Regions from separate parts of the Homo sapiens genome. Here region 2 is linked to region 1. The links come from fine-mapping of genetic effects on gene expression. A gene starts in region 1. The other region holds a variant in brackets. All regions are shown on one strand. Distances are between the middles of the regions. Region 1 holds the start of TCF7 (transcription factor 7). Region 2 has its middle 47 kb from the start of VDAC1.

The links. PIP is the estimated chance that this variant, and not a neighbour inherited with it, causes the effect.
Region 2: its variant is the best candidate, but not a certain one, in a credible set for the expression of TCF7 in nasal epithelium (TOPMed, PIP 0.65).

What each region holds. Positions count from the first base shown.
Region 1 is chr5:134,111,793-134,117,158 of GRCh38, reverse strand. It overlaps TCF7 (transcription factor 7), which reads right to left and starts at 2,478. Exons shown (of 10, transcript NM_003202.5): 1 at 2,004-2,478; 2 at 1,772-1,838; 3 at 1,126-1,250. The coding sequence starts at 2,252. It also overlaps a transcript of VDAC1 not described here. RefSeq lists a silencer at 2,402-2,521 and an enhancer at 2,612-2,841.
Region 2 is chr5:134,049,095-134,054,460 of GRCh38, reverse strand. It overlaps a transcript of VDAC1 not described here. Among named protein-coding and RNA genes, the nearest start is that of VDAC1, 47 kb to the right of the region's middle. RefSeq lists enhancers at 2,072-2,647, 4,374-4,949. The variant T/G (reference allele first, on the strand shown) is at 2,218.

The DNA of each region.
Region 1 (5,366 bases):
GCCCAAAGGGCAAGGAGCTCATTTCTAGAGCTAGCCATAGAATAGGCTTTCCAGCCTAGGCTTCTGGAAAGAAGCCTATATGTCTTCTCATTCCCACTGGCTTGGCATGCAGCAGCTCTCAGAACCACCCTCTTCACTCCTGGTCTGAAATAGCCTAGCACTTAACTCTCCTCCCTCTGGTGACCCCACTGTAGCCATGCGAGCCTCCAGCCTGCCAGCCCCACCTGCACTGGGCTTACATTCACACCCAACACTCACTTACCACAGTCCTCCAAACCTTCCACGTACCTTCACCCCAACTTGGACCAACTGAGGAGAGTGTGAAACACGAATAGGAATTTCTTTAAAAGCGCAGCTGTACTGCTCCAAAACACTCAGAATAGGCTCTTCACACTTTAGGTCATCTGTACCAATGGGCATGGTTTGTAAAGATCATGAAATCTTTTCAAAGCACTGGGACTTAAAAATATTTAATTCACGAATTAATTAAACTGGTCCCTTCTCAACATCACTGATTTGTAGCACCTTTGCCAACCCTTCCTGGTATGTCTGAGACCAAGCCAGTTTCCTAAGAACCCACTTTCCACACATGGTGTTCAGGGTCCTTCTTTGGCAACGGTACACTCACGCCCGTCAGGACACAGCCGACCGAACACAGCACGTTTCTCCTGCACAACCAGGGGACCTGAACAGATCAGCTTTCCTGCCCATTCCTCCAAGCGCCAAGGAGGCTCAGGGTTTCCTGGGCTAGTTAGAAAGTTAATTGCAAAGCTCTGAGCTCAGATCAGAGCAGCGAGGAGCAAGGGTGGTCTCGGCTCAAAAGTTCTCTAAGAAGACCCCACCCTGGCATCACCCAGCACCAGGACAGAGCCTGCACCTGCTTATGAGCAAGCTGGGAAGACAAAAGCCAAGAGGCAGAGGGCAGGGGGGTGCCCCAGGGCGGCCCCTCCTTCCTTCAGCAAAGTTCTCCTTTTGGTTCAGATCCCACCGGGTGTGTATGGGAGAAAAGACCAGCACAGGAGTCTCGTCTATTTTGTTCCAGGCAGAAGTCTCTTGCCGGTGCCTCACCTACCTGGTCAAGGAGGCTGCAAGCACAGGGCGGCACTGGCTGCGGGGTCCACTTACCAGCGGGGGCTGCGGCTGGGGGTGCTGCCCTGCTCCCGAGGGGGGTGGGTAATGCATGAGCAGATTGAAGGCGGAGTAGACGGTCTCTTTGTACATGCCGCTGGTGCACTCCGGGGCCTTCAGGCCTGGAAAAACCACAGCTGGGTCAGACACACCAGCCCTGGCAGCGGCTGGGACTGAAGGCTGTCTGCTCTTGAGAGAAAAAGAATTGCCAAGGGGTCCCCTGCAAGTTCCTGACTTGGGAAGGAACGGGCTGGGAGTATCGGCAGTGCCAAGTTTTAGGGGAAGGACCTGGAGGGCAGGCCTCCCCGAGGTGGCCCCTACTTGACCTCCCACCCCCCGCCCTCCAACCAAGAAACCTTGGCCAATTCTGTCTCCTGAAGGCGGCGGATTAGTCAGTCACCTGGGCAGGAGGGGAGGCGGGGATGGCGGGGGTCTGTTTACTCCTATAAAGGTCAGGGCACCGGAAGTGACTCGACCCGGCGGCGCCCGGGAAGCCCGCCCCCCACTCTCCACCCCTGGGTTCTGCCGCCTCCTGAGCTGCGGTGGGGGAGGCACCCGGCTCCCCGCGGTCCTTGGCGTCCCCGTCCCACCGAGGCCAGGGCCTGAGCGCGACGAAGGGAAGCCGGGCCGGGCAGAAACTCACCGTCCTCCAGGGGCTCTGGAAGTTTGTCCGGGAAGAGTCTCTGCGCAGCGTGTTCCCGCCCGAGAGCCTGGAGGGAGAACCGGAGGGGAGTGAGGGGCGGTGGGACCGCGGGGGTCGGGGCCGACGCCGGGGCAGGGACGCTCTGCGCGCTGGAGACCCCGAGGGCCGCGCGCAACTGGGGCGGCGCGGCGCGGCGACCGCGGGGGAGGAGCCGGCGCCGGCGGGGGCTCACCTCGGCCTCGCCGCGGGCCCCGGCGCCGGCCCCCGGGACCCCCGGGATCCCTGCGCCGCCGGCCGCGCCCTCGGACTCGTTCACGAGCGACGACTTGAGCTCGGCCAGGTCGCGCTCGGGACCGGCGGCGCTGTCGCGGCTCTTGTCGTCCTGCTCCTCGCCTTCATCCTGGAAGGCCAGCAGCTCGTCCGGCGCGCCGAGGTCGTCGCCGCCGCCCGCGCCGCCCCCGCCGGAGTCCAGCTGCGGCATGGTGCGCTCCGCCCGCCGGGGCGCGGGGCGCTGGGCGCCGGGAGTGCGGGGCGCGGAGCCGGCCCGGGGGGCGGCGAGCCCGGAGTCCGAACCTCCGAGCTCGGATCGCGGCGGGCGGAGCGCGGGCTGACTCCGCCTGGGCGGGCTGCAGGCGCGGGCTAGGGCGCGGGGCAGAGCGGCTCCGCGAGCTGGCGGGTCGGAACATCAAAGGCGCCGCCGGCCGAGTGCCGGGGGCGGGGCGGGCACTGGGGGCGGGCCGGGCCGGGGGCGGGACACAGGTCCGCCCCGCCTCTCCTCTCCCGGGAGAGGCCGGGACGCGCCCACTCGGCATAGCCTTAAAGGGCTCGCTCTTCCGGAGCGCACCCTGAGAGAGACGTCGGACAAGCCTGGGAATGATCACCCTTCTCCCGAAACGCAGAGACTCTAACGGGAACTCCTGACCCCGCTTACTCACCTACAACCAGATATTCCCCCTGCTTTCTGCGCCCAGGTTTCTCCTCCGGCTGTGGAGGGCGGGGGTCCCCTAGGCCCTTGGGACTTGGGCGTGGCTTACCATCGCAGCCGTGGTGTGAACTGTATCGTGCCCAGGCTCCAATGCGCCCTGTGCTTTGAACTGGGGGCTTCCTAGGGCTTGAGGCTGCTTGAGGCTGTGCTCGTACCCCAGGGAACCGGCAGCGTTGGAACTCCGCGGCGCTGTTGCGGCTCTTGCCCCATCCTCCATCCCTGTGCCAATCAGGGACTTCCTTCTAGGCCGCCTGCATACAGTGCGAACATAAGTATACCCCCCTTCGCACATTTATTGAGCTCCTGTTGCGTGCAGAGCTTATACATCACACATCTGTGACGGGCCCCTCAGTCAGGCGACGGCTCCGAGCCGCGAACACAGCCAAGAGCACCGGACCTCAGCCGATCCTCCAAGTCCCAGCCCCTATGACTCTCCCAACTCGGTTCCGTGACTAGAACCTGCAGCCCGGAGACTCGGAACTTTGGGCAGCCACGTGGGCGCGGGATTCCGACATGGGTCGCTCGTCCACAGCAACTCAACCCTAGAAGTCGCATTTAGGGAGCCCATGACTCTGAAGTTGACCCTGGCCTGACTAACCCTCTAACCCTCGCTCGATCCAGGCTGAAACATCTAGATTTGCGGAGCGCGGGAAAGTGCCTGGATTCCAGCGCATCTGTATGGCACCCGGGTCTGCGTCCACGCGGGCCTCCACGGCGCGCTTGGCCTGGCTCAGCCCCTGCATCTACAAAAGACGCCGGTCCTTTGGATCGCGATGCAGTCAACAGCAGCTCCCCTAGCAGGTTTCTGTGCTGGGTTCACTGTAGACGCTCACGCCTCTTCTGAGAGCAGTTGGGATAGAGGGTATTTGGGGGAGGGCCGGGTATTGGACGCCTCTCCCTCTGAGGGCCCCACAGGACCCCTGGCAGCGGTGCAAAGCCGGGCCGGAAGACAGCCGTGCCTCCCTCCGGGTCCAGGCCCAGCGTGGCTGGCTGTGGATCAAAGAGCTAGGCCATGCTTCCCTGTGTTCAGATCCTATCTGTGCCCGCCCAGCCGGGTGTCTCGGACACCAGCCCCCACACCCCCCTCCCCCGCCACCTCCGGGCTAGGGTGCCCACTTTTCCTCCTTTCCCCAGGCTGGGGCTGGGGGGTGGCATGGGCACGAGTGCTCAGCTTGGTGATGGAGATGAGGGGGACCCTGCCCATTAGGTCTCCCCAGCCTCTTCCCAGGGTGGGCTTGCCGCTTAGTCTCGCCTCATCTGCTCCGGATTGGCGGGGAAGGGGGGGCTCGGCCCTGCCCGGAGGGGAGAGGTACAGGGACGGGAGTTCAGAGCCTCCGCCACCTCAACTCCTGAGGTTATAGGTAGGGTCTGGCATAGGGTGAGCCTCCTCTGGGACAGCTGAAAGGGAATCCGGATCTGCCCAACCCAATGGCTTTAGGGGTCCTCATGTGTTTGTAGGGAACCCTGGTTCAGCAGGAACGTCCTCCAGAATAGCTGTCCCCAGACCCATGAGTTCCACCGACACAGATCAGTGGAGGCTGAAGTGTTCTCCAGTCCTTGGAGAAAGGAGAAAAGTCACAACAACAGTGAGGTTCTTTTTGTTTTGTTTTGTTTTCTCAATAAGGTTAAAACTTTCCAGCTTCGTATTAGCCTTTAATCAAGGATTATGCCCTTACTGCTTTATTGGTGTGAAAACATCCTTTCTTTACTAAAATGGTGGTGGGACAAGTGTTTTTTTTCATGTCTTTATTTGGTGAAAGAACATAAGGAACATTTTTTTCCCCATCTGTTAACTCCCCCACCCTCAAGTTTCTTTGGACATTTTATAGTCTGGGAACAACTGTCCTATGGGGTCATAGCTCCAACTCCCCACCCTGCTGGCTGGAACCAGAGGAGAGGGTGGGTGAGTAGGGAGAGTGGGACTGTGAGGAGGCGTGAGGGAGAGAAGGGCTGAGTCACAGGCATCCACAGCCACACTGAAATCAGTCTGAAGGCTTGCTAAGGGATCATCTACTGTGTACCTAGCCCTGGCTTGGGCTGTGGAGAGGGAAGGGCTAGAGGTGTCTGCCTTCCAGGAGCCATTGGCTGCTTTGAGAAGCTGAAGAGTTATTAGAGCCGATTTAGGTGCTAGAGTAGTCTATACAGGTAATGGACAGAAAGAGCTCAGATATGGTGAGATCAATGTGGACTAGAGTAGTCAGGGTGGCTTCCTGAAGGAGGTAGATTTCATGTGGGCCTGGATGGCTTAGGAGGGTTTGGAAAGCTGGAAAGGAACAAGAGCTCTGATTTGTTCCCCAGAAGTTGGTGCGGCCCCACAGGAGTCCCTGGTCTAGTCAGCACTGATTCCTTCACCATCGTCTACACAACGACCAACCTCATATACTGAGTGATTACTATGTGCCAGGCATCCTGTCAAGAGCTTCACACACATTATCTCATTTAATCATCACACCAACCCTGTGACATAGGGACTCGTATCCCCATTTGACTAATGAGGAAACTGAAGCTCAGAGAGATGAAGTCACCTAAGTTCTCACAGCTTGAAAATGAAGGTGTCAGAATTTGAAACCCAGGCAGTCTGACTCCTGAGCCCACATCCTAACTATCACA
Region 2 (5,366 bases), 63 kb after region 1:
AAGGAAGGAAGGAAGAAAGAAAGGAAAATAAAAGAGAAAAGAAAAGAAAGACAGACTATGGTCAGTTCTCAACAGGGAGAGTCTAGAAGCTTGCCAGGGTGAAATGAACTACCTCCATTTCTCCAGCCAGGAGAGCCCTGAGCCGCTGCACCTTGTTCCTGCCTGCTGGAGATTCATCCAGTTCCAGCAGGGCAGCCCCGCCCTAGCCACCATGCTGGCAGAGTAAATCAAGCATTAAAAACAAACTAATTAGTACTTCAGGGCAGTTTCATTCAAAAAATTACCACACTGAGAAGGTGTCTCATTTAGAACCGACTTAATTAAAAGACACCTTGTAAATTCCTGCAACAGATGAGGACAGTACTTTCCAGAAACGCCATAATTGAAATGTTTTACTGCTTATACCAAATGGTTATTAAATCCTTAATATCATAATTCCTTAAGAATGCCATTGTCAGTGACAAACAGCAGCTTGCACAACAAAGGAGCTGATTGTTCCCTCCTCTGGCCTGTAACCCACAGGAAGTCATAACGTAAGACTTCTCTGTTGCTGTACTTGGTTCTTTGCATTTTTAATGAGTAGGAGTAAATGCCAGCTCTGGGAGGAATCCACCATAAAGATAGAGAATGGAAAGAAGCCCTGTTTCTGACTTGTTGACTTGTGGTTTAGGGAAAAAGGCATCTTCCCTAGGTGAAGGCAGGCGCTGGTTGACTGCCGTATGGGTGGGCTGCCCTGACTGGGTAGCACAGAGATGCTAACTAAGTTGCCCAGCAAAGTGGAGGCTGGAGAGAAAGTCCCACCCATGCAATGTGGAATGGCCCGGAATGGGGCTGAGGGGGACAGGATGGGGTGTCCATAACCTGTTCTGTTTCCCCCCAGGCTTCCTCCCAGAGCAGCTGCCCTGGGGTGAGGTCCTCCGGGTCTGACTCCATGCAGGCTGCGCTCAGTGCTTCCTCCTGCAGGATCCTCCTTCCTGGCGCCTGCCCCTGGCACGGCTCACAGGAGCCCTAGACAATGATGGAGGGTTGGGCAATGGGTCCATTGACCCACAGCAAACTGACAAAATGCAGAGTATCCCCAGGCATGGTGGGTGCGGGTTGGAAGGGGGTTGTTTGTAGAATGGAGGGCTTTTCAGAAGGAACTGAAAGCCATCTTTTTGCTGACTTGCTGGGTGACCAGGCGAGTGGCATGGCCACTCCATGCTTCATTTTCCTCATTTAAAAAGAAAGTGGTGTTAGCAGGGCCTGGATTTGGAGTCAGTCTGATCTGAATTCAAACCCTGCTCAGTTATGCACTGTGGTATTTGGGGCTTCTGTTTCTTTTATTTCTTTCTTCTTTTTTTTTGAGACGGAGTTTCACTCTTGTTGCCCAGGCTGGAGTGCAATGGCGCTATCTCAGCTCACCGCAACCTCCACCTCCTGGGTTCAAGGGATTCTCCTGCCTCAGCCTCCCGGGTAGCTGGGATTACAGGCGTGCACCACCACGCCCAGCTGATTTTGTATTTTTAGTAGAGACAGGGTTTCACCATATTGGTCAGGCTGGTCTAGAACTCCTGACCTCAGGTGATGGCCCACCTCGGCCTCCCAAAGTGCTGGGATTACAGGCATGAGCCACCGCACCCGGCCAGGGCTTCTGCTTCTTAACTTTGCAAAGTTGGGGGAGCAACAGTAGCTCCCCACAGCATGGTGTCGGGGCTAAATGAGCATGTGTGTAGAGCACCTAGCACAGCGCCTGGCCCATGGCAGTGCTCAGGAAGTGGACTGAATAGGGGAGGGAGAAGCATCTTTCCTTTTAACCTTCTAGGTTCTCAGCAGGGACCCATAACAAAAGACAGCTTAACAAGAGAAAAGCATGCAAACTTATTTAATATAAGTTTTGGTTGAGCACGGTGACTCATGCCTGTGATCCCAGCACTTTGGGAGGATCACTTGAGCCCAGGAGTTCGAGACCAGCCTGGACAACATGGAGAGACCTTTGCCTCTACAAAAAAATACAAAAATTAGCCAGGCGTGGTAGCATGGGAGGATTGCTTGAACCTGCAAGGTCGAGGCTGCAGTGAGCCAAGATCAAGCTACTGCATTCCAGCCTGGGTGACAGAGTGAGACCTTGTCTCAAAAAAAAAAGTTTTACATAACACAAGAGGCTTCATAGAGAAATGAAGACCTGAAGACAGTTAAACCTGCGTTTTGTACCAGGTTTAATGAAGAGTGGAGAGT[T/G]GTGGGAAAAGGTGACAGGACAAAAGAGAATGAGGTCAATCAGAGTAGCAAACTGGGCAAAACCAGGAAAGCTTGACCCTTCAGATTTCTCTTTGTCTTCAGAGGTAAGAAGATGCATCTTCCTTTCCCGCTGGTGGAGGGAGGGCGCCTTTCAAATGAGGGGTTATGACCTGCTTCAGGGGAAGGTCAGAGAGTCCTTCTTGCTTGTACCCGCTGTTGCTCAGATTCCTTCAGCTTAAAATATTCGGCCTTATGCAGTGGCTCACCCCTGTAATCCCAGCACTTTGGGAGGCTGAGGTGGGCGGATCACCTGAGCTCAGGAGTTCAAGACCAGCCTGGCCAACATGGTGAAACCCCGTCTCTACAAAGATACAAAAATTAGCTGGGCATGATGACAGGTGCCTGTAATCCCAGATACTCGGGAGGCTGAGGTGGGAGAATCACTTGAACCTGGGAGGTGGAGGTTGCAGTGAGCCGAGATCGTGCTATTGCACTCCAGCTGAAGCAACAGAGCAAGACTCCATCTCAAAAAAACAAAAAAACAAAAACAAAAACAAAGCCAAAAAAAAAAAAAACAAACTGCCCAGGCACTAGGGGTAGTGTGTCCTTAACCCTGTTGATTGGTATTGATGATTAACATCATTTAATATCTGTAAGAAGAGAGATATGGAACAGATGGTGTCACATCCAGGTATTGAGCAAGGGGACTGGCTGACTCACTCAACAAGGTTCTCACAAATGATCAAGCTCACAGAAGGGCACTGCCTGAAAGGAAAAGGCAGTGGAAGAAGCTCTGGCCCCAAACCAAAATGCAAGTGACTCTGTAGCAGTCTTTTGTTTGAAGAACGTTGGTTAGTCTGGTTGCCCTAACCTGCAGAAGCATCCCAAGGCGCCTTCTTCACTGTAGCCCAGGCCTAGCCCACTGTGGGTGCTGCCAGAGCTGCTGTGGACTCTGAGAGCGGGCTCAGCATCAGAGCTGGGTTGGGACCATTGCAATCTGGAGGGCTGTGGGAGAGTTGGAGTTAGGGCCTGGCCCCCCTGGCTCCTGGGCAGTGCTCCTTCTCCATCTCACTGTCTGTACAGTCCAGACAGCTGTTGGCCCACAGGGTGCCTTCAAGGAAACTGGAAGAAGGTGCTCTGTCCTCCTCTAGCTGGAGGGCATGGGGTGGATTTCAGCCTCACTGGTTCCCCGGGCCAGGTGCCCTTGTGCAGGGCACAACACATACAACTGTATAAGGCCTAATACACTGCCAACTCTCCCCTCAGCCAGGAGTTCACACATGCCCTCAAGAACCGCCAGAGGCCTCTTCACTTGCAAGGCCCTTCCTTATCCCCAGAAACTCCTGATGGCTTTTTTGCTGGGAAGGGGTGGATTGTTTTTATCCACCTGAGCCCCTGCTTCCATCCCCACCTTGACTCTGCCACCACACTCGCCCAAAGCCAACTCAGCAAACACAGATATGCCCAGTGACACCCTCATCTCCAATTTGACATGTTTTTAATATTCCACTTTGAGAATTTTTGCATCCTTTGAGTTTTTCAAGAAGTTTCTTAGGCTAATTCCCATTAGGAGAATTCTGCCTTAACTTCAAGTCAACCAGTACATTGTGGAAGCTTCTAAGAAGAAGTGGAAGACTTTGAGAGAAAGTCATTAATGTGGAGAAGAACGGGCAATCATTCCCCTGTAATTTAGGAAGACATCGGCCTCCCTATTTCACACTCAGTATTTTGCATTCTCTTTCATCTCTCCCCCTGCCCAGAGGAAACAGTTGCTGGGGGGGCTTGGAAGTGTAAATGGGGCTTCTCTTCAGTGCATCCCCCAAAGGGTGTGCTGAAGAACTAACGCATTGAATAATTTAAAAGCAAACTGTACAACCACTAGAAAATAGAATTATTAACTTCTGTAGAAGGGTAAAGTACTTCAAATCAGGAAACAGTGAATAATATTGAACAAGAGAAGGTGGCACATTTATTTATTTATTTATTTATTTTCTTTTAGACGGAGTCTTGCTCTTTTGCCAGGCTAGAGTGCAATGGCGTGATCTCGGCTCACTGCAACCTCCACCTCCCAGGTTCAAGCAATTCTCCTGCCTCAGCCTCCCGAGTTGCTGGGACTACAGGCGCCTACCATCACGCCTGGCTAATTTTTGTATTTTTAGTAGAAACGGAGTTTCACCATGTTGGCCAGGATGGTCTCAATCACTTGACCTCATGATCCGCCGTCCTCAGCCTCCCAAAGTGCTGGGGTTACAGGCGTGAGCCACCGCGCCTGGGCGGTGGTGGATTTAGTACATCTAAATTTCCATATGTAAAAGCTAAACTAAACAAAGTTGAGTGGAAAAACACACCTCAAAAGCTTTAGGCCAGGAACAGGGTGGCTCACACCTGTAATCCCAGCACCGTGGGAGGCCAAGTGGGGCCAATCACTTGAAGTCAGGAGTTTGAGACAAGCCTGGCCAACATGGCTAAACCCCCATCTCTACTAAAAATACAAAAATTATCCAGATGTGGTGGTGGGCGCCTGTATTCCCAGCTACTTGGGAGGCTGAGACAGGAGAATTGCGTGAACCTGAGAGATGGAGGTTGCAGTGAGCTGAGATCACACTACGCTCCCTCCTGGGCAACAGAGTGAGACTCTGTATTAAAAAACAAAACAAACAAAAAAATAAACTTTAGAAATGTTTGTACCAATTGAACTAGTAATTCACTTTCTGGGGAATTTTTGCTAATGAGTAACCCTTAAATATGGAGTTGGGTTATGCATCAAGTTGTTTATTGCAGAATTATTTATGGCAATAAAAAATAAAACCAGAAAGTAATCTAAATTTGCAGTGATTGAGGAATAGCAAGGGGTGGGCATGGTGGCTCACACCTGTCATTCCAGCACTTTAGGAAGCGGAGGTAGGACGATTGCTTGAGGCCAGGAGTTGGAGACCATCCTGGGCAACATAGACAGACCTTATCTCTATTTATTTAAATAAGTTAAAAATTAAATTAAAGGATAGTATGAAATCATTTTAAATGCTGTTTCTGAAAATATTCACAGGGAGTCAGTGATACATACTATTAGGAAAACAGTCTTGACATCAGCTAGACCTGGGTTAGAAACCCAGTGCTACCCATGTGCTTTGGGACTTAATCTCTCTCTA